4 linked regions of the Homo sapiens genome follow. The protein of the gene in region 4 interacts with the protein of the main gene of each other region in a biochemical or structural test. Each region holds a gene or a part of one and is shown on either strand. Other genes may lie near its edges.

Region 1 (7,034 bases), on a different chromosome or scaffold from region 4:
TGTTTGCTTTACCATACATTGTGCCTAATTTTTTTTTAAAAATTAAGTTTGTAAGCTCAATTCAAGCCTCTTTTTATTTAATGTTTAGATTAGTACTAAAATGAACTACTAATGTCTGGGTCCTTTGTTAGCAAGGATTTTCTTTCAATACCTACCAGAAGGAGTGGCTTAGCTGTCTGAGTATCAGCTTTAAAATACCTAGACTTCCTGGAACCATAGATTGTATTCTTAGGAGGGCTGAGGAACTTCTTAATTATTCTGAAATAGGTGGAATGGCAGACCATTTCCTACACAAGTGTCTCTCTACAAAATCTTAAAAATCCAAATACTCTGTGGATTTTAAAAATTCAGTAACTTTTTTTCTTCCATTTGGAGAAATGTTCATTTGCTGTATGACCTCAGAAATCCAAAAATATGTCCTTTCCTTTTGCTTATCTTCTACAGTTTCTTAGCATGTTGTACCCTAAGCTATTTGTATATACTTTAACAATGATATTTATTTGCTTAAGCATTATACTTTCAATTGTGGCTGAGCTAGTCCATTCTAAGGGCTAGACTGCAGAGAACTACTCACTGAAATCCATGTGGTTAGAAAGAGCCCTTTTAAGCTTCACGTGGTATGTTCAACTCATGGGGTCTTTGAATTCTCACCACTTTTTTTTTTTTTTGAGGCAGAGTCTTGCTCCGTCACCCAGGCGGGAGTGCAATGGTGTGATCATAGCTTACTGCAGCCATAACCTCCTAGGCTCAAGCAATCCTCCCACCTCAGTCTCCCGAGTAGCTGGGAGTACAGGCATGCGCCACTATACCTGGCTAATTATTTTTAATAGAGATGAAGTCTTGCTAGGTTGCCCAAGCTGGTCTCGAACTCGTGAGCTCAAACAATCCTCTCAAAGTGCTGAGATTACCGGCATGAGCCACCACACCCGGCCACAGTTTCGTTTTAACATCTGTTAATCCAAAAAATTTCTTCAAAGTCCTTTGGTGATTTTGTCAATGCTGCTATTGATGTTTTGTTCTGGGAGGAAGCTCTCTTTCACCCCATTGTATTTTAGAAGTTTCAATGCAACCATGGAATGAGGATTTTCATTACAAGCTTTTTGAAAGGTGCAATAGTCTCAACATAATGAACTCAAAATCTCAGTGCATTGAAGGGTTTGCATGCCAAGTTGACCAAGTGCCTAAACTGTATAAACTCCCTATGTGCACACTTAGAATTGGATCATCAGATTTGTCTAAACAACTTGAAAGGCTTTGCTATCTGTTCACTGAACAGTCATTATGATGTACACACCTTTAAGAGGGACTCAGCCCCTCCACAACTGATAATGAAGGAAGAATCTCCAAGTGAGGTGAGGCAGCTGGACTTTGCAGGTCTGACTCTTGTCCCCTGCGATTCACTTTTCATCAGCAACCTGGAGGAATCAGAACTAGGCCCTGCTGAACAATCTGGAGATGAAAATCAAAGCCGGGAAGTACAGCTTCTCCTGGATTGGATCTCGATTTGACTTTTTTCTTTTTTCTTTTTTTCAAGGAACAGACTGGGTTTCTTCAGAGCATTATATCAGGGATTAAGAGAATCAGTAGACTCGGGTTGTTTTGGTTTTAGAAAAAGATCTCAGACGATTATTTAAATTCCCTATGCCTTGGTTTCCCTGTGAGAAAATGAAAACAGTAAGGCCTGGACCCTCCCAGTAACAAAGGGGCAGATGTTAAAAATATAAAGGATTCTAGCTTTCATATAGGAAATGCATGTGCAAAATATTACTCATTTATTAAGGTGCATGAAAATTTACTGTTAACAACACAGAAGACTAATATGTATCATTGATGTTATTCAGGTCTTATAAAACTCTAGTGGCCAGTCGTGTTTTTAATGCCAAGAACCCCGAGGAGCAACTGGTTTCTAAGAATCAACACTTAGTTCTGAGCCGAGAGATGCCCCAAGGAAGATAAGAGACTTACAGTTTGTTTGGCGTCCAAAAAGCTTTCCAGACAGCAGTTTGTTTCCTTTCCCTTTTTATGAATGGTGGTAGTATTATGCTTCAGTCTGCGTTTTCTACCAAAGCCATTCATAAAAATAAAAACAAAACAAAATAACAACAACAAAAACTTTCTCGGCACAGTCTGGAGCCATTGGGTGCCAGAGGCTGGGAAAACATCCTGGCAGCCATAACCCCAACCAACATTGAAAGTATTCAAGGGTCTGTTTGTTTGGTGGTCTGAAAAGTATGAAGTGCTGTGTCTGAGGGTAGCTGGTAGAAGTTCCGTGACACGGACTAGGCCGGGAGCCAGGGCTGGCAGAGATTCAGACATTGTCTTTCCCCTCATTGAAGTGTCAGGACCTAATTCATGGAAAATTGGGTGAGCTGGCAGCTCTTTCAGAGGATTTCATTGAGCTGCAGTGTGCAGGAGTCACATGAATGCGGGAGCCTCTGCCAAAAAAGGAGGGGGATTTCTGAGCAGTAGGAACCAGTCAGCCTGCAAGAATGTATGTGGATTTGAAACGGTTTGGGAGTAAACATGTGTACAGGTGTAATCAACAGGGAAAAATGGGAGGAAGATGAGTGCTCTCTTCTTCCAAATGACCCTTTGGAAATGAATCCTCTATTAGCCCACGCTTTTGTGTCCTAAGAGGCAAGAAGTCCTCATCGTTCTTGGTTCGATTTTCCCTGGAGAAAACATCATCTCAAAACTTGGGCTTTTGTGATGACGTCATCTTTACTGTGATTTAAAGTCAAATGGAAGAACGTCTTTTCCTTTGAGCAAAAGTACCTTGCCATTTATTTTATTTTTATTCTGTCCATCTAAAAAAAAAAAGCTCTAATGATTTTTATATGGAATTTTTAATGTACCAGCAATAAACCACTGTACCACTGAGAGGAACTCTGAGAGGAAGGGGCTCTCAGAATGAATGAACAGGGGCTAGTGAATAGTGAACGTATCCTAAGTGCTGTTATTTGGGAGAACTGGTGCAAGAAAGCATGTCGCTATCCACATCAGAGTACCTCAGGTGTACTCACAAATCTCAGCGATGTGTAGATAGAATAATACATGCCTATATTCAGACATGAGAGTGAGGACTGGAAGCAAATAATCCATCGAAAAGCTCAGGCTTCAAATCCATCTTTTATAATGCCAAAGAAATAAGAAGTATTCTCTAATACTCGATTGGAAAGTTAGGCAGGCAGAAAAACATTCCCTCGGATGTTTCACTCAAAAGAGGAGAGTTTTGCTCTACACATACAATAGATACAGATATAACACAATATAACACAATATTCTTCCCATGATACCACGAAGAAACTGAACAAACTCACAGAATTATTTGCAAATCATAAGGGACTTGAATGCAAAACATTAAAAGAACTCTTACAACTTTGTTATGAAGAGATAGCAAATTTTTTTTAAATGGGCAAAGGATTTAAATAAACATTTCTTCCCAGGAGACATATAAATGGCCAATAAGCACATGAAAAGATGCTCAACATCATTAGTTGTGAGAGAAGTTCAAATTGAAACAGCAATGATGTTTAACTTCACATCCACTTGGATGTCTACAAGCAAAAAGACAGGCAATAACAAGCATTGGCATGTATACGGAGCAATTGGAACTCCAGATTCATTGCTGGTGGGACGGACTGCAAAATGGTACAGCTGCTTTAGAAAGCTGTCTGGCAGCTCCTCAAAAAGTGAAACAAAGAATTACAATATGAACCAGCGATTCCACTCCCAGGTACATACCCAAGAATGAAAACATGTTCGCACGAAAACGTGTATATAAATGTTCATAGTAGCATTATTCATAATAGCCAAAGGGTGGAAACACCCCAGATGTCCACCAACTAATGAATGGATAGGTAAAATGTGGTATACCCATACAAGGGAAAATTATTTAGCATGAAAAGGAATGAACTGCTGATGCTACCACATGGATGACCCTAGAAAACCCTAGGCCAGTGAAAGAAGCCACACACAAAAGACTCTACATATATAGTATGATTCCACTTACATGAAATGTCAGGATAGGTAAATTCATAGAGACAGAAAGTAGATTCATGGTCACTTAGGCATGGGAGGTGGCTAGGGACGTGGAGGGTAGTGGGGAGTAACCACTAATGGGTACAAGATTTCTTTTAGAGGAGATGAAAGTGTTCTAAATTAGACTGTGGTGATGGTTGCACAACCCTCTGAATATACTAAAATATACTTTAAATGAGTGAATTATGTGGTATGTAAATTATGTCTCAGTGAAGGTGTTTTAAAAAAATAAAATATTAACAAATTAGGTACCTTCACTCCTCAGTTTTGTGATATATAGGCTAAAAACAAAGTGAATCAAACAGTTAAGTTTCTTTCAAGCTAGTTGGCTTGTATGCCAGAATTTAATTGGGAATTGGAATTGTTTTCACTGAGATAACCTATGTTGTATTTCCTTAATATAGAGAGATCATGAATAGACATTTTTGTTTTTTTTGAGATAGGGTGTTGCTCTGTCACCCAGGCTGGAGTGCAGTGGCATGATCACGGCTCACTGCAGCCTTGACCTTTCTTGGCCCAGGTGATCCTTCCATTTAGGCCTCTGAGTAGCTGGGACTACAGTTGCAACGCCACCACACCCTGTTAATTTTTGTATGTTTGTAGAGAGAGGGTTTCACCATGTTGCCCAGCCTGGTCTACAACTCCTGGGCTCAAGCCATCCGTCCGCCTCTGCCTCCCAAAGCGCTGGGATTATAAGCGTGAGCCACCATGCCTGGCCAAGTATAAACACTTTTAACATTGGATATACCAGTTGAACTTTATACTTTCCTCTTTCCTTTGCAGACAAGTATCTGTATTTAAAATATGTACACCTAATTTTTTCTATAATGTATATTTTCTTTTAAAATATATCTTTTTCTTTTCCTCCTTAGCCACAACAAGTTGTTCAGAAGAAGCCTGCTCAGGTAAGACATAGTCATTAATTTTTTTCTCCCAATTAATATAAAAAGTGAAATATGTACTGAAAAATGTCCCCAAACTAAACCTTATTTCGCATTTTCTTACTTTTGGTTATCGTCCTGCAGTATTCCTGAAAATGTGTTGTAGCCTTCAAAGTTAGGAATATATAGTCTGCAATCGTACCATGAAAACCTCCCAAAATGTAAGGTCTTAAGTGTACAAAGCAAATATAAATTCTTTTAAAAATAAAACTATTTTATTACATTGCCTCATATGTAAAACAAATATTTAATCTTATCCTATATTTTACCAATTCTTAAACATCAAATTTTGTCCTTCCAACTGACTGTCTATATTCTGTTGACACCAGACTTATATTTAATGATTCATGACTGGAAACATATTTCTTCATTGAACAATTTCATAATATTTGATGATCCCAAAACACTCCAAAGAATGCTAGAATACTTGGAAATTAAGTTATACTAACGTGCAGACTGATGCATTCTTAGATCTTATTTAAATAACTGAATCACAGTCTCTGAAGTTTTTGGCAACATCAAATTGGAAAATAGCTCTACGTCTCTTGCCCCATATTCCTGGAGCACCTTGTCCTCACTATAATCTGTACATAGAAACATTAAAAAAACATATTTATTGAGGAAGCATATCTTGAAGAAAACAAAACTGAAGTATAAATTAACCAGGATTGCTAATAATGTGAGCCAGTATTAAAGTATAAGAACGTCCTGCTGTTCTCTTCCCTTCTGTATGTAAATAGTCATTGGAGATCCAGGTGGTATCATGCTGAACCTGCTAAAATAAGTAGTAAGCAGTGTCATGAGCTATCAAATTAAGTAGAACTCTTTCATGTAATTTTAAGTATCCATGAAATTTTTTTCCCTAGAAGTCTTTACAAATCTACCTTGCATCCTGTTTTCTTAGGTCAATGTTGCCTTGCCTGGGAAGGACCACCCGGGCAATCTTATATATCTACTGTTCTCTAAAAATGCCACTTAGAAGAGAATTGAAACTTCCAAACACATGAAAGGATCCAAGGAAAGTGTCTTCAAACAATTACATATGAGCTTTAAGTGGAATAAAAACAGAGTTACCATGAAAAAAATCATTTTCATTGCTGCTCCCATACCTAAAAGCTAAGAGTGGGAGAGGGGTGCTAAAAAAAACCCAGTGTTTGTGCGTCTTTAAGCAATATTTAAAAATATATACATATAAACAAAAACTTGACATTTTCATTAGGAGAACCCAAATATATTTAGCCTCTCATCCTTTAACTGTACAAAAATCAAGAGAAAGTAAATTGATAATTCTGTGCATTTGAGTCAAAGGATGAGGCAGAGTTCACATTTGCATCACAGGCTGTGAACTATAGATTAATCACTTTATGTGGTTTGTTAATATTGATTCAGCCCTTGTGCTTAGTGTCATAGGGAAGATGAGTCAAACAAAGAAAAACAGTCACTGCATCTGAGAAATGTATTTATATGTATATGCCTGTGTCCTATCCAGTGGTATGCTGGAACCAGCCCTTGTGAGCAAATAGTGAACATCTCTTCTGAATTCTGTGTTCAGTGATGTCAAGTAGGTAGCTTGAAATCCACTATGGTGGGAGTATTTACACCATGGAAAGTGACAAATACTACAAATCAGGACTTTTTTTTTTCCTGAGGAGCAAGTAGTTAAACATTTACCTCCCCAGCATGGCCCCACCCTTCAGCGATTCTGTTTATTTGGTCTGGAGATCCATCATATTTTTTATGAACTCCCTAAGTGAGTTTAATATGCAACTAGAGATGAAGACACTCCATGAAAACACATGAGAAGATGTCTGAACATTTGTTGAGCAAATGACCACAGAATGTCAATGTGTATGGGACACACGGGGGATACAGATGAATGAGTGGAATGCCTCAGGTTATCAAGGGGATGATAAGACTGGAATTTTCTTGTTTTGTTTGATTTTGTTGTTGTTGAGTTGCAGAAGGGAAAACTGAAACATAAATTAAGGGAAAGAAATTACAGATGAGATGAATGGCATATAGAAAGGTAGAGAGGCAAGAACAAATACATCA
Region 2 (7,294 bases), on a different chromosome or scaffold from region 4:
AGTCTTCTGCCTCAGCCTCTGAGTAGCTGGGACTACAGACATGCACCATCACACCCAGATAATTTTTGTATTTTCAGTAGAGATGGGGTTTCACCATGTTGGCCAGGATGGTCTCAAACTGCTGACCTCGTGATCCGCCTGCTTTGGCCTCCCAAAGTGTTGGGATTACAGGCATGAGCCACCGCGCCAAGCCAAAATGGGTGAATTTTATGGTATGTAAATTATACCTTAATAAAGTTTTAAAAATTAATACATGTGTGTTTGTTTGTGTGGGCTGTCTTAAAATACCATAGACTGAATGGTTCCAATAACAGAGATTTATTTCTTACAGCTCTGGAGGCTGGAAAGTCCAAGATCAAGGTGCTGATTGATGTGATTCTCTGTGAGGGCCCTCTTCCTGGGTTGCATCTCTCCCTCTCTCCCTCTTAAAAAGTCACTAATCCTGGCCGGGCACGGTGGCTCACACCTGTAATCCCAGCACTTTGGGAGGCCAAGGTGGGTGGATCACCTGAGGTCAGGAGTTCGAGACCAGCCTGACCAACATGGAGAAACCCCGTCTCTACTAAAAATACAAAATTAGCCGGGCGTGGTGGCTCATGCCTGTAATGCCAGCTACTCTGGAGGCTGAGGCAGGAGAATCGCTTGAACCTGGGAGGTGGAGGTTGCCGTGAGACGAGATCATGTCATTGCACTCCAGCCTGGGCAATAAGAGCAAAACTCTGTCTCAAAAATAATAATAATAATAATAAAGTCACTAATCCCATAATGAGGGTTTACACTCATGACCTCCTCCAACCCTAATCCCTCCCAATGCTGTCACTTCCAAATACCATAACAATGGGGGTGAGAACTTCAACAAGTGAATGTGTGGGGAGACAATTCAGCCCATGGCCATGTGTTATCTATACCATCAACAGGGTGGGAAAAAATGGAGAATGAATAGACTGGGGGCAAGTGATAGGATTGCTGGTCAGCATTAAGCATTTGGGTTTGTAGTCATGAATCAAAACCGAGACCAGCCAGGGTGATTCTGTATTTTTCTCCATCCACATTCAGCTGCCAGGGGTGCAGGTGCAGAATAAATGGAGGGTTGAATTCAGTTCATAGTTTGGAGGTATGCAAAGGTGTGGTAATAATGATGGTGGGGAATCTGGCTAGGTAGTTGAGAGTGGTGTGGCCATGATTGGGGGAGGGATAGCAACAAGTCAGACAGCTTAATGGATGGTTAGGGCTGAAGGCTCACTGGTGCAATCTTTAGAAGGAGTGAGCTGGAGAGACAGGAGGTGACGGGCAGAGCGTGAGATGCATGGAGCTGAGATTCTGTAGGGGCTGTGGTTATGCGGCTGTTGCCATCTAGAATGGGTCCTTCTCCCCCACCAGGCTGGGACCTCTGGGGCTGTCACAGTTATGTGTTGTTGTGTGTTCCCAGCACAAGGTCTAGGTGTGATCATGGGAAAGAAGGGTTGGGTGGAGGACAAGTGCAGTGGGGGAGAGGAGGTCAAGGCACCAAGAGGCCAGAGTGGTAAAAGGATCATTTACCTGAATTTGAAAATCACCAAGAATAATGACAGGAGTGGTGTGGGTGACAGTGAGCCTGAAGCTAAATGACGAGGTGAGCAGAGGTGACTTGGGAGTCAATGGGTCTAGCAGCACAAAGGGGAGCAGGTGCTACAGTGTGACTGTGTAAGCTTCAGACCTAGGGTTCAGGGAGGAGGCAGAGACAATGGTTTAGAAGTGCCAGTGAGGAGCAAGGACGCTCTTCTCCCATCTACAGATCCAGTGGACATGAAGGCCGAGAAGGAGAAAACAGCCCCGCTTGGAAAGGGAGGTCTTCAGGGCAGAGTCCTCCTTAGAGCAAGAAGGTCACAGGAAGGTTCAGAGGGAGTTGAGGAAATGGGGAATATTGGGAAAAGTCCTCAAGGGCTTCGCTATCCCTGCCCTGCCCTGCCTGCCAGTGTCTCCTCCATCCCCCTCCCACCTCTCTGCCTGGGCCTCCCCTATCCTGGCCCTGAGCCCCCTGCCTGGGGCTCCCCAGTCCCATTTCTGCCGGTGCTTCCCCCATTGCCCTCCTACCCCTCTGCCTGTCCCAGCCCTGACCCCTCTGGGCCAACACTGTTTGGGAACCTGTCTGTCTCTCCTATTGGACTGGCAGCTCCAGGAGGACAGGACCCGGGGCTGTTTTAGCCACCATTGTGTCCCCAGCACAAGACCAACAGGCACCTCCACCACTAATTACTTACCGATAGAGCCAATTTCAGGTCTTCAGAGCAAGCTAGCAGGCAAAGTATCTCAGAAGCAGGAGATGGTGCCAGGATTCCAAGAAATAGGGCTGGAATCCCCTAAATCTGCACTGCACTCTGAGTACTTTTGTCCTTTAGAAGAAAAATATTAATTAGAAGGCAAATAGTAAAATCCATGTGAAATAGGTAACATTATCCGGAATTGGACCCACTGGAATCATTGCACATCTAGAAATCCAGAATAGACTCAACTATTTCATCTCATAGTTTTTAAAAAGTTTTTTTTGTTTGGTTTTTGTTTTTGTTTTGGGACAGGGGTGTCGCTCTGTGACCCAGGCTGGAGTGTAGTGGTGCAGTCATGGCTCATTTCAGCCTAGACCTACTGGGCTCAAAGGATCCTCCTGCCTCAGCCTCTTGAGTAGCTGGGACTACAGGTGCAAGCAACCATACCCAGCTAATTTTTTATTTTTTGTAAAGATAAGGTCTCACTCTGTAGCCCAGGCTGGCCTTAAGCTCCTGGGCTCAAGCGATCCTCCTGCCTCGGCCTCCCAAAGTGCCTGGATTACAGGTGTGAGCCACTGCCCCGACCGGTTCTGAAAAGTTTAAGCAGATTTTCCATCATAATATCTAAACAATCTTTCAGGAATGTTTCTGTGCAAATTGGTGGCATTCCACAGCTGGAACACTGTACACAGAGAACTCACAACGGTATGAGGCCATCCATTCATTCAACAAACATTTACTGGGCACCCAGAGGGCTGTCCTAGGCCTAGAGTGATAGAGCAGTGAATGGAACAGAGTCAACATCTAGGCTCTGGACTGGTAGGTTCTTCTGGAGTTTTTCGGTAACTTCTCATAACAGCAGTTGTCTTGCTTTGCAGAATGAATATAGGGATGGATACTGATATTACACAATTACAAAGCCCAAAATTCTTAATACTTAAGCAGAATCTGTTGACCCCTGACGCCGCTCTCTGCCCCCACTCTGATCTGTCCATCCTTTTCTTCTGATTCACGGCAGCAGCCAGTCCTTGGTTTTCCTGCTTTCACCCTCACTCCTGCAGTCTGCTTCCCACATGCAGCCAGAGGGACCTGTGTCAGATCACATTCCTTCTCTGCTTGGAACCCTTCCATGGTTCCATCTTACTGCCTAAGTCCTCACTATGTCCCACAAAGCTCCGCACAATCTGCCCTTGTTAGCTACCCGCCCTTATCTCCTCTTACTCTCCACCTTGCTCACTTTGCCCCACCCACCCTCCTCATTGTCTCTCCAACTTCCCATATCTTTCCTTCCTCAGGGCCTCTGCATCTGCAGATCTTTTCCCTGCCTGGAACTCTCTTCCCCTAGATAGGTGCATGCCTCACTCCTCACTTCCTTCAGCCCTTTAGCTCAAAAGTCTCCTGATGCATTCCTTGACCACCGTGCCAAAAAAACAAAAATCATTTGCCCTCCAAAATCTCTATCCCCTTTCCCTGCTGTTATTTTCTCCAAAGCACTTATCGCTTTCAAACATTCAACATGTTTGGTGTCTATTTCCTCCATTAAAAAGATGAACTCCAGGAGAGTGGAGATTTTTATGTCTCGTACACCGCTGTATTCCCAGCTCCTAGAACAGCACCTGGTACACACGAGGTGCACTGTAAATGTTTTTCGGATGTTTGAATGGAAGCCCAGAGTCGGTCACTGTTCTTGGGGCTGGAAATGTATTGGGGAAGCCTTTTTGGGTGTACAGGGGCCAGAGGGATTTAGCTAGGAATACAAAAGAGGGCACAGCCCGTGCGAAGGCTATGAGCCCTGATTATTGGGGTGCTCGCATTGGGGAAGAGGAAACCGGAAGCGAGTTTAGGGCGACCGCTGCACAGGCAAAGGCTGGGAAGGCAGAGAGCGAGGGCAGCGGGTTGCGTGTCGACAGGCTCGAGAATCCAGGCTCACTGCGCGTGCGCCGAGCTCCGGGCGGGGAAGGGGCCCGGGGGCGGGACTACGGGGTGGCGTCACGCAGCGCACGTCGCCGCGCGCCTGCGCTCTTTTCCACGTGCGAAAGCCCCGGACTCGTGGAGTTGTGAACGCCGCGGACTCCGGAGCCGCACAAACCAGGGCTCGCCATGAAGCCAGGTCAGGCTGGGGTGAGGGTCCGGGGTCAGGGACGGAGGCCGGGCGGGAATCCGGGTGCCAGGCCAGAATCGGAGGGGTGGGGCCTTGGCCTGGGGGCAGGGGTTCTGAGCACGGGTTCCAGTCTCCTGTGGGAAGGGGGATTCTGATTCCAGCAGGTCTAGGGGTTTGTGACTGGCTTCAGAGGTCACGGTCGTGAGTCGAAGAAGGCCGTGGGCCTGGCATTGGGGGTGTTGACGTGGGGTTCGTCTCATTGAGGCCGTCTAATAGGGATTTTGGATATTGGGCAGGAGGCGGCACTCAAGGGTCTTGGGCTAGAGTTTGGATTCAGGCATCTGGAGTCTTGGATCGCTGGGCGTGTTTTGGGAATCAGGCTTGGGTCGGAGATGGAGAGTTCCTGACCTTGGGTCCTGGAGCTGTGTGTGGGAAGCCCCCATTTGCCTTCCCTGTCGCTGCCACCACCACCATCCCCTTATCCCGCATCCCAGCTTTTCCGAGTGGGCCGGAGTGGATGAGGACTCCCCGGTTGGCCGTGTGCGGCGCTCTTCGGCTCACTTTCCCGCCTTCTGCACTTACAGTGGGGCGGATCCCCGGGGATGGAGTGGAGATTTGGGGATTAAGATTTCCACCTCCGGGACGAGACTTAACAAGCTCGGCATTAGTCTGGGGTGGTGGGGCGGGTGGTTGTCACAGGAGGTAAGTAGTTTTATTCTTAAGATTTTCCACTAGATTCTGCTGAAACCACTCCCTTCATGGTGGAATGATGAGGGGGTCCTGGCTTTGACAGCAGAAGGGCCTCAGTTCAGTGTGTCAGCTCTTGCTCAGCTTCTTAGCCTGCTGTGTGAACTTGGGCAAGTGGCTTTACCTCTCTGAGCCTCTGTTTTCTCATCAATAAAATGGCGCCAGTTAGGATTAAGCGACGTTAAAAAAAATAGCACAGTGCTTGACATATAATAGTATTAGCTCTAATTGTTACCTTTATCTTTCTCAAAGAGAACAACATTAGAATCCTTCTCGGTGGTGCCTGAGCACTTCCTCCATCTGGCCTGCCCAACCCGCACTCATCTGTGTGAGAACTTGCTTCATTGAGTTTGGAGAATTTCCACCATGGCCCAAAGGGTCTGTTTTCCTAGTACAGGCTTTCTTTTTCTTTTGTGTGTGTGTTTGTGTGGAGAGATGGGGGTCACCTGGCAGGAGATTTGTGGATCTGTGCCCTTCTCCCAAGTTCCCTTTCTCTTCCGTGTTTGGGGATCTCTTGATGAAGTGGGGTGGGGGATTGTAGGCCAGGTATGCTGAGATCCTGGCTTGCCTGCAGGCATTCTGGTCTGTGATTCCCTCATAAATGGAGGATACCCGTTCTTCCAACCTTCCTCCATGTGTGGTAGAATGTGAAGTTGTAAAAGTTGTCAGGTGTTAGCTCTTTAGTAAGGATTTTAGCCTGAGTGAGAAAAGAACCCTTTGGGAGATTTTTGAGCAGGGGCGTGGTGCAGTCTGACATTTTTAAAAGGGATTCTTTTTGCTTCGATGTGTGAAAGACCTCAGGGTGGCAAAAGTGGAAGCAGGCACATTGGTGGGAAGCTTGTTGCTGTAATCTAGGAGATGGTGTGGTGGACCAGGATGGGAGCAGTGGACATGCTGACAGTTTTACATGCTTTTGAAGACAGAACCAACAGATTGTATGTGGGTGTGTGATCGGAGTCAAGGATAACCAAGGGTTTGGGGGTGTGTAACTGGAAGGATGGAATTGCCATTTTTGAGATGGAGAAGGCTGTGGAAGGAGAGCAGATTTTAAATCAGGGGGTTTATGGACCCCCCTCCCCCCAAAAAAAGAACTTACTGGAAAAGTTTGTGTGAACATGTGTTTTTTCTGAGGACTGGGTACTTTTGGTACATTTTCCCCCAAAAGCTCCAGGACCTGAAACGGATTGAGATGTTTTGAGTATCTGGGATTGAAAGTTTACACTCATGCCCACTCCGCCCCAAGCACATGCCAGTACTTCCTTTCTGTTAGGCCTGGGTTGAGACTTTCATAAGCCTAGCTGTGGCATCTCCCCTAAATGAAGGTCTTGGCTTTGGAAAACTGTTGGAGGGCTTGGGCAAGAAAATTGAGATCTGAGTTGCTGTTTCAAAAACAGCACTTATTAGTTGCTGTGTGGAAAGTGGACTGTAGGGGGAGTAGAACATTAAAAAGTGAACAACTCTTAGTTATGTTCTAGAGTTTTGAAAAGGAAACTTCATTTTAAAAGATCAAATTAGGAGTAGCTATTAAAAGTTACATTTTCATCTTTAATAGAAAGATGAAAAAAGAACTAACTGGAAAAGTTTGTGTGAACATGTGTTTTTTCTGAGGAATGGGTACTTTTGGTACATGAGGAGGGAAGAGGAGACGCGTACCCCTGAGTTTGAATGATGATGTTCAAAGTAGGTGCCAGATAGTATATATGTGATGTGCTCTGTGGGTACAAGTCATTTAATCTTTACAACCCTATAGGATGAGCACTGCATTTTTTTTATTTTTATTTTTTTGATACAGAATCTCTCTCTGTCACCCAGGCTGGAGTGCAGTGGCACCATCTCAGCTCACTGCAACCTCCGCCTGTGTTCAATTGATGCTTGTGCCTCAGCCTTTTGAGTAGCTGGGATTACAGGCATGCGCCACCACGCCCAGCTAATTTTTTGTATTTTTAGTAGAGACAGGGTTTCACTATGTTGGCCAGGCTGGTCTTGAACTCCTGGCCTCAAACTGTCCGCCTGCCTGGGTCTCCCAAAGTGCTGGGATTACAGGCATGAGCTATGGCGCGTGGCCTGGCACTGTATTGTCTCCATGTCTTACAGATGAAGTTTTCAAGACCCCTATGAACCTTCCTTACTAGGGTCGAGAGTGGCAGCAACATTGCCTATCTCTCCATATGCGATACTTGAGGGGAGTGACCGGCACTTCCCT
Region 3 (6,859 bases), on a different chromosome or scaffold from region 4:
AGGATGAGCCCTAAACCTCATCCTAAAGGATGAGGGCCAGCCAGGGTCTGTTAGGCGGTGCATTTCAGTTGGAGAATTCCCTACCCATCTGACAAAGTCCCATCTGACTCCAGTTGGGCAGAGGAGGGGTAAGGGGAAAGAGGAGGGTGGCCTTTGGCTTTGGGCTCACTTTCCTCCCCCACCTCACCCACTAGCTTCAACCATCTCCTCCCTCCCTCAATTATACCAATCTGAATTCTCCAGGGATTTACCCTGGGTGAGAACAGAGAAGAGAGCTGGTGGTGGGCACCACCCCTGGCTGTGTGATTGGCTCTTTTTGGTCCTGAGTCTTGCACCTTGCCAGATAGGCAATATTGTCAGTGAGGTGGGCAGGGGATCAATGTCCATAGCTGCCAGATCGCAAGGTCTCATTCTTTCCATTTTCCCACTGAACTGCGTAGGCTGGATTTTCTCTTAAAGAGAAAGGGCAGCAGTTGACTACAGAAGGAGGGGATGCTGGCAATACGTCAGATCTCACCTCCCCACACCTTTGTCCCAGGGTGGCCTCACCCATGTAGCTAGGTCTGGGCTGGCTGTACCTCCTGGGACCCCCCCCACCACGCTGCACTGGGGCGGTGTTAAGGCAGGACAACAAAGAGCCCTTCTGAACAGGAGATAGATAAGAAGCTGATTAGGGCCAACGGCCCTTCCCCGCCCTTGGCAGCATCTGGGGGTGGGCAGACCCCTCCATCCTGGGCAGAGTAGGAGGCCTGGGGGCCCATGGGAGCACAGTTTTCTGCAGTGTGCCTTGAAGGTGTGGGTGATGAGGGGGTAGAAAGTGGCTGAAGCGAGATGTTTGTCTAAAAGCACTTTTCTGTCTCCCAGCATCCCAGCCATCACTCTTCCACCTGCTCCTTAGAGAAGGGAAGATGAGTGAGTCGAGCTCGAAGTCCAGCCAGCCCTTGGCCTCCAAGCAGGAAAAGGACGGCACTGAGAAGCGGGGCCGGGGCAGGCCGCGCAAGCAGCCTCCGGTGAGTCCCGGGACAGCGCTGGTAGGGAGTCAGGTGGGTGTCCAAACCTTTGCTTCACTTGGTTTACCCTTTGGGGCTAGGGAGGTGCCTGGAGTTTCATTCAGCAGGCGAGACCATGCATGGAGGGTGCAGAATGATTCTGCGCAGTAAGCGTGTGGGTGTGTCCTCCCACCTGTGTGTACTCCTGCCCCACTTGCAACCCTGGTCAGATCTCTATAGAGACCCCAGGAGAGAACCGGGGGCCGAGGAATTCAAGATAAATTCTGAAGCCAATGGCAAACAGTCCAAACCTAAAGCACCCCAGAGGTCACATGGCCAGTGCTTAAAACACTCGCCTTTTTCTTAATTTCCAATCCACTGTGGACCAGTAATTTTAAAATGCAGTAAAGACGAATGAACAAAAATGAACATAGAAGCCCAGGGTTTTTAATCATTAGATTCAGTGCACGTAAAATGATTTTTGTCAATTTGCTGTAAAGTTGCTGAATACTTATGGTCGATTCTTGTACTTCCTCATCCCAGGTGAGAAACGGGTGCCTGCGTGGGCCAGCACCTGTTTGTGCACAGGCCAGTTATGAGTAGTTCTGGAATGGGCATTGCCCCTGGCTCTTTAGATGGAAATTGAAGCCCAAGAAGTCAAAAATGTTGGGGAGTTGGTGGCAGTGACCCTCAGAACCCTGGTGCTGCTCTCCCCACAAAGTCCTCATAGAAGGATGAGGCTGCCAGCCTGGCGCTGTGGGGCACCCTAGGGAGCATGGCCATTTGGGCATGGGGGGGACCCCATATTGGCCTCTTACAGAGGCAGCTGTCACCCAAGTGAAGGGTGGCTGTTGGTGAAGCCCAGTTACTTCCCTTCCCTGGGAGAGAGGTAAGAGGAGTTGAGTTCGACCTCTGCCCCTTAAACATGATACAGGTTGTTCACCTGCAGGTTTTCCCTGTCCGTACGGTGGAGAGTGGTCTGTGCTGACCTGGGCCCAGGGAGACACGAGCTGTGAGGAGTCTGCTGTGTTGGAATTCAGAGCCTGGGGTGGGGTCATTTGTCCTCTTAGCCTAGCTCCCTCAGCCTCCCCTCCTACCCCACCTGTTAGCCATGGTCAGTGGGAGGTGTCAGGAGGGGTGCAGGGTTACTGGACCCTGGTTATAGACAGACCATGGGCGGCCCCCTAGGAAACAGTAGCTGGCGCGCCTTCACCACACACCTTATATGCATTATGCAGCAGCTTTTTATTCTATCTACGGCTTATTAAAATTTCAGTGGGAATGATGGCAGGGATCTCTGGAGTCCGGCTATAATTCCCCTTCTCTGGGGGCAGCCTGGATGGGCTCCAGGTTTGCAAGTGCAGGCAGGGAGTGTGTGTCCAGCATAGGTCATCTGAGAGGGTGGGCAGTGATCATGGCCCAGTGCTAGATAACCATACATTACCCATTTAATCTCCATGACACCCTGCAAGGGAAGTCTTCACCATTTATAGATGAGGAAACTGAGGCTCCAGCATTAAGTGTCCCACCCAAGATAAGTGTCAGAACTGAGACTTGGGCAGAGCCACCTAACTGTCTTTCTGTCCCCAGAATGCCTTTCCTAGGGGTCTTCTGGGCTCTTGTCATTTTGCATCTTAGAAACCTGCAGGGAAGCAAGGGGAGAGGTGGGAGGCACTTTGCAAAGATGCTCAAACTGGAGCTTTGGATCCTGAAGGGATTCCTAGGTCAGGGATGGTTTGTGGTTCTTGGTTCTTGCTGACTTAACCTTGTTGAGGAGGCAGAGGGCTGTGTCTTCTGAGGGGGTGGAAACAGGTGATGACTGTCCCTGACTACCCCCTCTGTCTTTACAGAAGGAGCCCAGCGAAGTGCCAACACCTAAGAGACCTCGGGGCCGACCAAAGGGAAGCAAAAACAAGGGTGCTGCCAAGACCCGGGTGAGACTTGAGATGGGACTACCCCTGGGTGGATGACTAGCAGAGGATCCTCTTGTTGGCACCATGGCCACGGCTGTGGGGAGGTCTGGGAAGGGGCTCAGTCATCTCAGTTGTGTACCCCCTTCCCTGGTACAGGGATGGCAGTGAGTCTTTGCTAACTGGGGAGAGTGGGGCGATGACTAAGGTCTTACTTCTGGGGGGTTGGTCCTGCCCAGGACACTGCGGAGATCAGGTCAGAAGTCCCACAGCTTTCCTGATCTAGAGAAGGGCAGAGTGGGGAGAATGGAGGGTCCCTGCCAGTCCCTGGGCTGAGAATGTTACCTTCTCTTGGGGTTCCCTGGAGCCTGAAGGGGTGGGGACAGGCAGCAAAGGCCAGATTCACAGTGACATTAGCCTTTCAGAAAAGTTGTTTTGTTTTTTATTTTATTTTTTCTAAGACACGACTCATATCCTCTGAGTCATGGGCGGAGGTGGGAGTAGGGGGCGTGTGTGTATGTCGAGGGGGCAAATGTGGCTGGCCAGTCATTGCCAGCTGGACTTGGGTGGGCCTGTTGGGTGAGAGTGTTGGGTCACCCTGAACAGGCAGGTAGGTCTGCCCCCCATCACTATTGGGCATCGGGTGAGCACTGATGAGCATTTTGGACTTAGGAGATATTTTCTCTAACCCTCTAGAAAACCACCACAACTCCAGGAAGGAAACCAAGGGGCAGACCCAAAAAACTGGTAGGTGAAGAAGCAGACTGCTGCTTGCCTCCTGGGCTCTTTTGAGTTGAGGGTGTTGAGTACACAGTACCTGATGCTATGCACCCCCTATGGAAAGGCTCTCCTTGACCTGCTGGGACATCAGATTTTACAGAAGTCCAGAGAGGGGAAGGTACCTGGCCTGGGCTGTGCCCATGAGAAGTGAGGGGTCCCAGGTATAAATCAGACCACATCCCCCTGCCCTGCCCTGCCCTAGTTGTGTGTGGGGGTCCCTCCCTCTCCTGCTCCTAGAATACTCAGAACTTCTAGGGGAGATCTTGGAAGTCATCTAGCCTGTGTCCCCCTCAATTAGAGATGAGGAAAGGAAGCCATAGGGGGAAGGTTTGTCCTTCCTATGAGCCTCTGCAGAAGAGAAACAGCGAAGGAGCTGGGCCCTGGGAGGGGTCGGTGCTGGAGTTCTGATGTGACCCACCACACTGCACTGGAGGGCACCATCCAATTCTGGGTCCCCAAACAGCTGGTGGAAAGGCTCGGTGGGCTGAGTCAAGAAGCTGCCTCTAGGGGGCCACTGCAGTTAGGGTCACCCCAGCCTTCCAGCTCCTGGCCCTCTCCTACCCCCAGCCTGCCCCCTCAAATCCCTGAAGCTGTCATTCCTTGAGCTGAGCCACTGCTGGGGTGGGGGGGTTAGGGGGTGCTGCTGGCCAGGCCCCAAGAGTGAGTAACAGGAAACAAGTTGTTTTGGAGTTTGTGCCTGGCACGGGGGCTGTAGCCCCGTGTGGTGTCCCGACATTCCCGCCCAGTGAGTGAGCCCCGGCGGCACACACTTCCCCTTCCTCCCCACCCCGGCCTAGGGTCAGCCCTCGGCCACCCCGGAGGGCCAGGGCACCACAGCACAGCATCTGCCCCTGTGGGCCAAGGACCTGGTTCCCCTGCACCCACCAGCGGGCTCTTGCACCTTCCAGCCACCCCTTCCCATTTCCTCCCCCAGCCACCTCTTCCCCCACCTCCTCTTCTCCCCTAGGGAGTCAGTCACATCCTGAAGCTCATTGCTGCCCTGAGCTCTGCCCTCCTGCCCTCCCTGGGCCTGGGGGCCAAGGGGGCTTGGCTCCTGGCTCTGGGTGAGAGCAGCATGTGTGTGGGGTTTTTTCCTCCTTTTAAATTCTTTTTATGAATGAAGCCGGGCCGTGGAGGTTGCTGAGTCACCCACACACTCAGCCCTGACTCATCCCTCTTCAGGAGAGCCAGGGAGTGCAGGGAGCGGGTGGGGCCAGCCTCTGGGGGTGGAAGAGGGGGACCGGGCCAGAGCTCACACCAACAACTGCCCACCTCACAGGAGAAGGAGGAAGAGGAGGGCATCTCGCAGGAGTCCTCGGAGGAGGAGCAGTGACCCATGCGTGCCGCCTGCTCCTCACTGGAGGAGCAGCTTCCTTCTGGGACTGGACAGCTTTGCTCCGCTCCCACCGCCCCCACCCCTTCCCCAGGCCCACCATCACCACCGCCTCTGGCCGCCACCCCCATCTTCCACCTGTGCCCTCACCACCACACTACACAGCACACCAGCCGCTGCAGGGCTCCCATGGGCTGAGTGGGGAGCAGTTTTCCCCTGGCCTCAGTTCCCAGCTCCCCCCGCCCACCCACGCATACACACATGCCCTCCTGGACAAGGCTAACATCCCACTTAGCCGCACCCTGCACCTGCTGCGTCCCCACTCCCTTGGTGGTGGGGACATTGCTCTCTGGGCTTTTGGTTTGGGGGCGCCCTCTCTGCTCCTTCACTGTTCCCTCTGGCTTCCCATAGTGGGGCCTGGGAGGGTTCCCCTGGCCTTAAAAGGGGCCCAAGCCCCATCTCATCCTGGCACGCCCTACTCCACTGCCCTGGCAGCAGCAGGTGTGGCCAATGGAGGGGGGTGCTGGCCCCCAGGATTCCCCCAGCCAAACTGTCTTTGTCACCACGTGGGGCTCACTTTTCATCCTTCCCCAACTTCCCTAGTCCCCGTACTAGGTTGGACAGCCCCCTTCGGTTACAGGAAGGCAGGAGGGGTGAGTCCCCTACTCCCTCTTCACTGTGGCCACAGCCCCCTTGCCCTCCGCCTGGGATCTGAGTACATATTGTGGTGATGGAGATGCAGTCACTTATTGTCCAGGTGAGGCCCAAGAGCCCTGTGGCCGCCACCTGAGGTGGGCTGGGGCTGCTCCCCTAACCCTACTTTGCTTCCGCCACTCAGCCATTTCCCCCTCCTCAGATGGGGCACCAATAACAAGGAGCTCACCCTGCCCGCTCCCAACCCCCCTCCTGCTCCTCCCTGCCCCCCAAGGTTCTGGTTCCATTTTTCCTCTGTTCACAAACTACCTCTGGACAGTTGTGTTGTTTTTTGTTCAATGTTCCATTCTTCGACATCCGTCATTGCTGCTGCTACCAGCGCCAAATGTTCATCCTCATTGCCTCCTGTTCTGCCCACGATCCCCTCCCCCAAGATACTCTTTGTGGGGAAGAGGGGCTGGGGCATGGCAGGCTGGGTGACCGACTACCCCAGTCCCAGGGAAGGTGGGGCCCTGCCCCTAGGATGCTGCAGCAGAGTGAGCAAGGGGGCCCAAATCGACCATAAAGGGTGTAGGGGCCACCTCCTCCCCCTGTTCTGTTGGGGAGGGGTAGCCATGATTTGTCCCAGCCTGGGGCTCCCTCTCTGGTTTCCTATTTGCAGTTACTTGAATAAAAAAAATATCCTTTTCTGGACTGGAGTCTCCTGTGGTGTGTGCCCCTAAAGCCTGGGGCAGGTAGGATGGGTGACACTTGTGTTCTGGCCCCCATCCTTCAGGCTGCAGGAAGGGAGGGGAAATAGCACTGGAATCACCTCCGGGGAAGGTCATTTTAAGCCTCTTGATGAAATCAAAACCCCTAGCCACAAAACATTTTATTTACAAAATATATACTGAATACTATACATCTGGCCCCATCACCATGGAAACAACTCCAAAGCCTGCCTGGGGATTTGTGCCCAAGCCCAGCCCAGGAGGGCTAGAGAAAGCAAAGGTGTCTACCAGCCGCCCCCATCCCAGAAGGAAAGCCTCTTCCCATGAGTGCCTGTGGGTGGGCGGTGAGCTCAACACCCACAAAGGGCAGAAGGCCTGGGGGCAGTGAGGTGATGGTGAGGGCATGGGAAGCAGATGCTGCTGAGGGTGGGTGGAGGGAGAAATGGAGACCCAGCACCCAGCAGGGGGAGCCAGGTGACAGCA
Region 4 (7,000 bases):
TAACTCTATAGTATTTATCAAATATATAAAAAATAGAATTTGGAAGAATATTCTCATTTATCACTTAGTAAAGGAATTGTTAAATCAAGTTTTTTTTAAAAAACAAACCAAACCACCAGAAACCTACTCAAAATCACACACTCAAACTCTAAATAAATATTTGATTTAAAACATAGAACACCTTATAAGGAGCTCTATTTTCCCTCTAGCTTAAGTCTAGCTTGCTGTGACTGTAGCATTTACATGAGATGATCACTATCTTAGCATCAAAATGGTGACGGTTACAACTGTACTGCTTGCTACTCAATTATCTTGTAAATTGATAATTTTGTACATGTATATCTCTCCATGATGGAAGATCTGTGTTATATACAACCAAAGTTTAGCAAATTAGTTTTTATACTCTAATACTTTAATATGCAATGAATAAAAGGGCAGAAAATTCAGAATTACAATAAATGTTAGGCTATTTCAGAACACCAGTTTTTCACACCTATTTTCTTAGCATACAGAAGCTCGAAAATCATACATTAAGCATAGTTTGAATTGTCCTGAAGTTATATTCTGAAGGGGCTGTAACACTTAAGAACTAATAATATTAAAAAGGCAAAAGCATTATAACTCACAGCACACAAGACTTTTTACCTCATCTATAAAACGTGAGAATGTCAATGTTTTATTGGCTACAAGGATAAGGAAGGAAACATCAGAGAAATAAATTTGATAACAAGATTCACACTTCATTACAAGTGATTTTCCTAAATTCACAACTTTCACATTTGGCTGAGTGAAAGAGAAAAACAAAACAAAACAAAACAAAACTGAAAAGGGAACTTTCACTACTTGTAAGTAGGCCAACTCACATGATCCCTCCAAATGAGAGAGTTTAAATGAGAATGAGTATACTTTTCTAGCTGGGAAAATATTTTCCTTAATTAAGTGAGTTTAAATAATTTACCCATGGTGATGAATAAGCCCTTGGGCTAGGCTCAGAAACCTCCTCTACCAGCCTGTTTCATAAGAATTACACAAATATTTTTATGGGACATACAAGAAATATTTTTTGGTTATAATAGTAGAGACAAGAATTTTTAAAAATCCATACTATTTCTTTCAGGTCTCTCTCTTAAATGCACCTTCTGAGTTTCTTAGGTATGCTGTACAATTACAAAGTCCATTTTACTTAACGGATTAATGTGTTCATCAACTTTAGCACCCTATGATGTATGTGGTCAGAGTAATGAGAACAGGGCTATTTAAACTGCTTCCTCATATCCTTCCCCTTAATTACCAGTAGTGAAGTTTACCTAGAAAACAATGAGGAAGAAGTACCATAGCCTACAGGCACCTAGGGAGGGGGAATTAATTCGGACTGAGAAAATATGGCTCTGGAGAGATACTAAAGTCGTACTGGAAATGTATGAAGTCTAAATGAACCCCTTTCTCCCCAGCTTCAGACTTAGATAAGGTGTGAGGTGTCAGGGATGTGCATGGACCCTTCAAAAACTGACATTTTCATCCGTGTTCTTCCCCCTCACTCCCCCGCGAAACAAAATATACGGAAATACAAGTGCTTGGTACTACATGCTTTTGAGGCTAAATGCCCAATAATAAGCACGCTGTATCCGTTGTTGAGGGGGATCACTTTTTAAGTAAACATCACCAGAAGAATCTCTTCAAATGGAGAATGAAGTCACTCTCCCTCCCTAGAGGCTATGAGGGAAAAGGGGGAGATATTCCCCCTACTTGCACGTGGGATCTCCCTTTCCCCTCCGACCTCGCTACGCCTCTCCCACGCAGGTCAGGCTGCTTTGGGAGGTAGCTGGGAGAAAAGGCAACGCTCAGTCCTCCATGGCAAAGTCTTTGGTCTTCTCCTCCTGGTCTCCCACTTTGTAGCGCAGCAGCACGCGCAGGCGACGGGGGTTGTCCCGGGAGGGCAGCAGCGTGATCTCTCCTGAAACGTCCGTGTCTTGCTCCACTTGCACCGGCTCGTTCAGGTAGAGGAGCGCCTGTTTCCAGTGAGTGGCCGGGTGAAAAGGCGAGGTGGACAGCACCAGGGGTTTCTCCGACTCCCCTCCAGGGAAGGTCACCTGGAACCAGATGGCAAAGCCATGCATGGGCGCCGAGCCATAGCAGCTGCAGCGGAAGCGCCCGCCCACTCCGGCCTCCAGCTCCTGCTCCAAGCCGGCGCGGGAGAGCTCTAGCTGAGCAAAGCGCTGCGGCCGGGCCAGCACGTCCTCGCCGGACAATCCCTGCACAACGATCTCCGAGTGGCCCATGAGACAGCGCGTGGCGAAGCCCTCCAGGCAGCTCATGTCCACACCATAGTGCTGCTTCACCTGGCTCCAGAAGCCCAGGCGCCATTCCAGCATCTGGTCGCTGATGGGGGCTATGAAGAGCTCGGCGGAGGCCGGCAGGAGAAGACCGCCCTCCTTCAGCCACTTGGTTCGCGCGTGGAGGACGGAGCTCAGCATGGACTCGTGCAGGAGTCCGTAGCCCATCCACTCGCTCACGATGGCATCCACCTGTTCCGGCAACTCTACAGTCTCCACTGGTCCCGGCAGGACGTGCACCCGGTCCTCCAGCCCGTTGAACCGCACCACCTCCCGGGCCTGTTGCCAGATGGCGCTGGCCTCTACCGCGTACACGCGCCGGGCCCCGGCCTGGGCACAGAAGATGCTCAGAATGCCGGTGCCCGCGCCCACGTCCAGTACCGTCTTGCCTCGCAGTGCTGCCCAGTTCCGAAGGATACCCAGGCGGTAGGCATCGGTGCGGACGCGGTCCGCGATCATCTCCTCGTGGACCGAAACGTCCGAGTAGCACTCGTAGTACAGCTGGTCCCGTTCCCGCTTAGTCCTCCGGGGTCGCTCCAGGGCCGCCTCCCGCTCCGCGCCATCTTCCTCTTCAGTTCCCTCCCCTCCTTCGCCGCCGCCCCCCGACTCAAGCTTTCTTTTCTTGGGCTGCGACATCTTGGCCGCTCTGCCCGGCTCCCGGCGGGCGTAGCGCGGCACGGCGCGGGCTCCAGGAAACGGGGGCTTCTGGGACTTGTAGTGCGCGCTCGTCCTTCCTACTTCCTGCGGGGTCGCCCGGCCGGCGGCGCGGAAGGTCTCCTGTGCCTGCTCACGGGAGCTGTTTTGTATTGCTCTTCTGGTGTCCTGGCATCCCTTTTCCCACCCACGACGCCCACATTCTGAGATCCTTTCATTCCCCCTCCCACCCTTAGCTCCTCAGTTTTTTGCTTTCACTCCCTTCCTGAAGTAGGCACGCACACTTAAGACTAATAATCCACCTTTGTTTCTTCTGCTGAACTCACCTCTGTTTTTTTTGTTTGTTTTTCTGTTTTTTGTTTTTTTTGAGAGGGAGTTTCGCTCTTGTTTCCCAGGCTGGAGTGCAATGGCGCGATCTCCGCTCACCGCAACCTCCGCCTCCTGGGTTCAAGCGATTCTCCTGCCTCAGCCTCCCGAGTTGCTGGGATTACGGGCGCATGCCACCAGGGCCGGCTAATTTTGTATTTTTGGTAGACGGGGTTTCTCCCTGTTGGTCAGGCTGGTCTCAAACTCGCGACCTCAGGTGATCCGCCCACCTCGGCCTCCCAAAGTGCTGGGATTACAAGCGTGAGCCACCGCGCCCGGCCTAACTCACCTCTGGTTTTATTCCACCGAATTAACATGGCAGCACCATCCACCCACTACCGCCTTAACTGGACAATTGTAGCTCTTAAAGTGCTCCAGCTGTGGCAATTTAGAAACTGCACTACGCATTTCTTTTTTCTGTTTTCAGTGCAGTTAGAGTGCAAATGTAACAAAATTAAAACCTAACAATGCAAAATCTTGGTTCTGATTCCAGTATGACCACTAATTAGTTGAGTGATTTAGGGCAAATAATAGAACTTCTCTGGCCTTTAGTTGCCCATTCACCCACCAGCGAATCTTCATTGCAGTTGGGGAAGAACTAGGTTTCTGGTTCTACTTAGAAGAATAGTTACTTGGCTTTCGGCTCTGCTCTGATAATTCTGTGGCTCTCTTAAGAGTTAAATCCTGAAAAGTGCAGACTCAAGAGCCATGTGATACAAGCAAACTCGTTGCTAGGTGTATTCTATATATATATGCGTTTTTTTCTCTCAGAAATAACGGAATCAATTTCTTTTAATCACTTTCTCAATGCAATTCATTTTTTCCTGTGTTTTCTTGTCCGGGCAATATTGACACTCTCCTCTTTCTCTTATATTTTTCTTGTAGTCAACCATCAGCTGTTACTCTCTTTTTGTTGTCCATAATGGAAATAAAATATGTTTTTAAATATGTGTGGCATCTGTATGGGTGTCCGTGTTATTAACAAGGTGGGCATAATGCCATTTTCTGCCAGCTTGAAAAAAAAGTCACTCAGAGTAAAATGGATTTTTATTTTCTTGTGGTCTTGAATTATGTCCTTGTAACCAATAGGCCTGTATTCCTTGTCTGGGATCAAAGTTCTTTCATCCTATTTTCTCTATTAATCTTTCATTAGCAGAATAGGTTTATTGATATGGCATCCTTAGCTGTACTCTACTTCTAACTCAAGACTCTCCATCCTGGCTGCTTATTAGAATTCTCTAAGGAGCTTTTTAAAAAATACCGATGCCTGGGTCTACCTCAGACCAATTAAATCGGAATCACTCCAGTGGAACCTGGGCTTCTAGTTTTTAAAAGCTCCCCAGGGAATTCTAATGGGCAGCCAGGGTGAGAACAACTGTTTCTCACTAAAATGATCTTAGTTAAATCTTGCTTCGTTATTTTAATTGGGTAAATTGTATTTTTTTCAGTGGCCTGGGCTCAACCATTTAAGGCTAAAAACCTTGAAGTATTTCTTCTCTTTTTCTGCCTTGGTTTAATATCTTATTTTAAGATAATTGAGGCCCAGTGTAGGACATCAGATTAGAGTTGTAAATGTGACCACTTTAATATGTTACTTTTATTAATAGGTTGTTACTTAGTGTATACTTTTGCCATTCTTTCTTTCCTCAAAATGTCACCTTTTCCTTTTAAATACATTCATTCCTTCACCCAATTTTCAATTCACTTCCTTATGGTCTCTTTTAAGAAAATTCTGAATATAAGTTTCACTGGTTCTACCTCCAAAATATATCTTGAATCCATCTGCTTTTCTCCATTTCTATTGTCAACACCCTAGTCTAATCTTCCATATTGACTTGCCTGAAAATTAGTCTCCTAAGGGATCGCTCAGCTTCTAATCTCAACCCTATCTAATCCCTTCTCTACATAGCTGAAAGAATAAGCTTTTATAAAACCCATTGGGCCATGTCATTCTTCAGTAACTTCCCGTGTTAGTTAATGGAACAATTCAGTAACTTCAGGTAACTTCCCATCTCATCTCATACCATTTTTCCCAACTCTTCATTGGGCTCAAGATATACTGGTTTCTAATAACACATTTCTTTCCTGTGTCAGGTCGTCATGCATACTCTTCTGGTGCTGAGAAAATTGTTTTTCTCCTTAGCACTTCACTTTAGTGGCTTCTCATCCTTCATGTCTCAACTTAAATGTTACCTCATGAAAAAGGCCTTTCCTGGCTTCCTTAAATAATATTTTCAAACCCAAGACACTATTTTGTTCCCTCCCAGCATTCATTATTATCTGTATGTATTTAATTAATTTATTTGTTTTCTATACAATATCAACTCCAGGAGACTTGGACTTTTGTATTCCCACTATTGCAGTCCTTAGCACTACAACAGAAGCTGGCACATAGAAAGTGCTCAATAAATAGTCTTGAACAAAGTCTATTGTGGATGTAGAGAGTTTTGCTTCATTAGTTCAATGTGACAATGTGACTTGGTAAACTCTGAGATAGATCCAGATATAGATAGAATGTGGAATGCTCCCAGAAATGAGAATAGTATAAATTTTAAATACTGTTAATGCTTCTAGATAGAATAGTGGTAAGCACCAAACATTATCCCTAGAGCAGATTAAAAAAGGTCTGTGGCACTTTCCTTTCCTGCCCTTTTATTTGATATAGAGAAGGAGTTCTTTACTGATCTTTTGTACCACAGTGAGATGTTTTAAGTAGGAAAGGGACCTAGATCATAGCCCTTCCCTAAGCCGTGCGGCTCAGCAGCAAACCACCTGCATGGGAGAAGAGTTGGAGTTCTGCTGGCAGAGCATTCTTAGTATTTTCATTTCAGCGATCTGCTTGCCACGTCTATTCAATGCTCAAACCCAGTTTTTCAAACAAATGATCTTGAAATTTTAATTTAGTGCAACTTGACCACCATTAAGAAGAAATAATAGATCAGAAAATACTAAATGTGTCAAATGAGTAAAGGTGGGTATTATTTCATAAAACTTGTTTCGTGGCTCACACCTGTAATCCTGGCACTTTGGGAGGCCGAGGCAGGCAGATCACGAGGTCAGAAGTTCGAGACCATCCTGGCCAACATGGTGAAACCCTGTCTCTACTAAAAATACAAAAATTAGCTGGGCATGGTGGCACGCGCCTGTAGTCCCAGCTACTCAGGAAGCTGAGGCAGGAGAATCGCTTGAACCCGGAAGGCAGACGTTGCAGTGAGCAGAGATTGTGCCACTGCACTCCAGCCTGGTGAAAGAGCGAGACTCCGTCTAAAAAAAGTACTGTATGTATATTTCTTGCTTCAGGTTATGGTTAAAAGTTTGAAATATACAGCTTACTGTTCTCCAAAAACACTATGAATTTTGGGACTTCTGTACTTTTGCTTTGCGTGCCTCTACTCTTCCCTCCTCTCACTCATCTTTTTAGCTAATGCTCAAATGATGTTTTTTCAGCCAGTCTATGGCCCTTTAATACATATAACTCTTTTTGCACTTGTATCATTGTATCAGAACTATTTATATATCTGGCTTTGGACTGTGGACATTTGAACACCAAGATTTTGTATTTTTCATTTTTATGCTGAGAACCTAGTGCATTGTGCTGGAATCTGGACCTTTCCATATTCCAGATTGTTGCTCCCAAGTATACTGAG

The links.
Region 1: of the proteins of PRMT6 (region 4) and HMGA2, one has a biochemical effect on the other in vitro, tested with the Homo sapiens proteins (one study listed by BioGRID).
Region 2: of the proteins of PRMT6 (region 4) and FBL, one has a biochemical effect on the other in vitro, tested with the Homo sapiens proteins (one study listed by BioGRID).
Region 3: of the proteins of PRMT6 (region 4) and HMGA1, one has a biochemical effect on the other in vitro, tested with the Homo sapiens proteins (2 studies listed by BioGRID, with this or other methods).

Annotation. Positions count from the first base shown.
Region 1 is NC_000012.12:65,946,470-65,953,503, forward strand, and holds part of HMGA2 (high mobility group protein HMGI-C), read left to right. Parts: exon of another isoform or gene 1-1,655; intron 1,656-1,965; exon of another isoform or gene 1,966-2,238; intron 2,239-4,913; coding exon 4,914-4,946; intron 4,947-5,886; coding exon of another isoform or gene 5,887-5,961; exon of another isoform or gene 5,962-6,067; intron 6,068-7,034.
Region 2 is NC_000019.10:39,843,350-39,850,643, reverse strand, and holds the start of FBL (rRNA 2'-O-methyltransferase fibrillarin), read left to right. Parts: upstream 1-4,264; 5' UTR 4,265-4,343; coding exon 4,344-4,353; intron 4,354-7,294.
Region 3 is NC_000006.12:34,239,873-34,246,731, forward strand, and holds the end of HMGA1 (high mobility group protein HMG-I/HMG-Y), read left to right. Parts: intron 1-800; exon of another isoform or gene 801-864; 5' UTR 865-908; coding exon 909-1,043; intron 1,044-2,839; coding exon 2,840-2,923; intron 2,924-3,595; coding exon 3,596-3,646; intron 3,647-4,958; coding exon 4,959-5,012; 3' UTR 5,013-6,359; downstream 6,360-6,859. UniProt on the Homo sapiens protein: HMG-I/Y bind preferentially to the minor groove of A+T rich regions in double-stranded DNA. It is suggested that these proteins could function in nucleosome phasing and in the 3'-end processing of mRNA transcripts.
Region 4 is NC_000001.11:107,052,685-107,059,684, reverse strand, and holds PRMT6 (protein arginine N-methyltransferase 6), read right to left. Parts: upstream 3,012-7,000; 5' UTR 2,970-3,011; coding exon 1,842-2,969; 3' UTR 391-1,841; downstream 1-390. UniProt on the Homo sapiens protein: Arginine methyltransferase that can catalyze the formation of both omega-N monomethylarginine (MMA) and asymmetrical dimethylarginine (aDMA), with a strong preference for the formation of aDMA.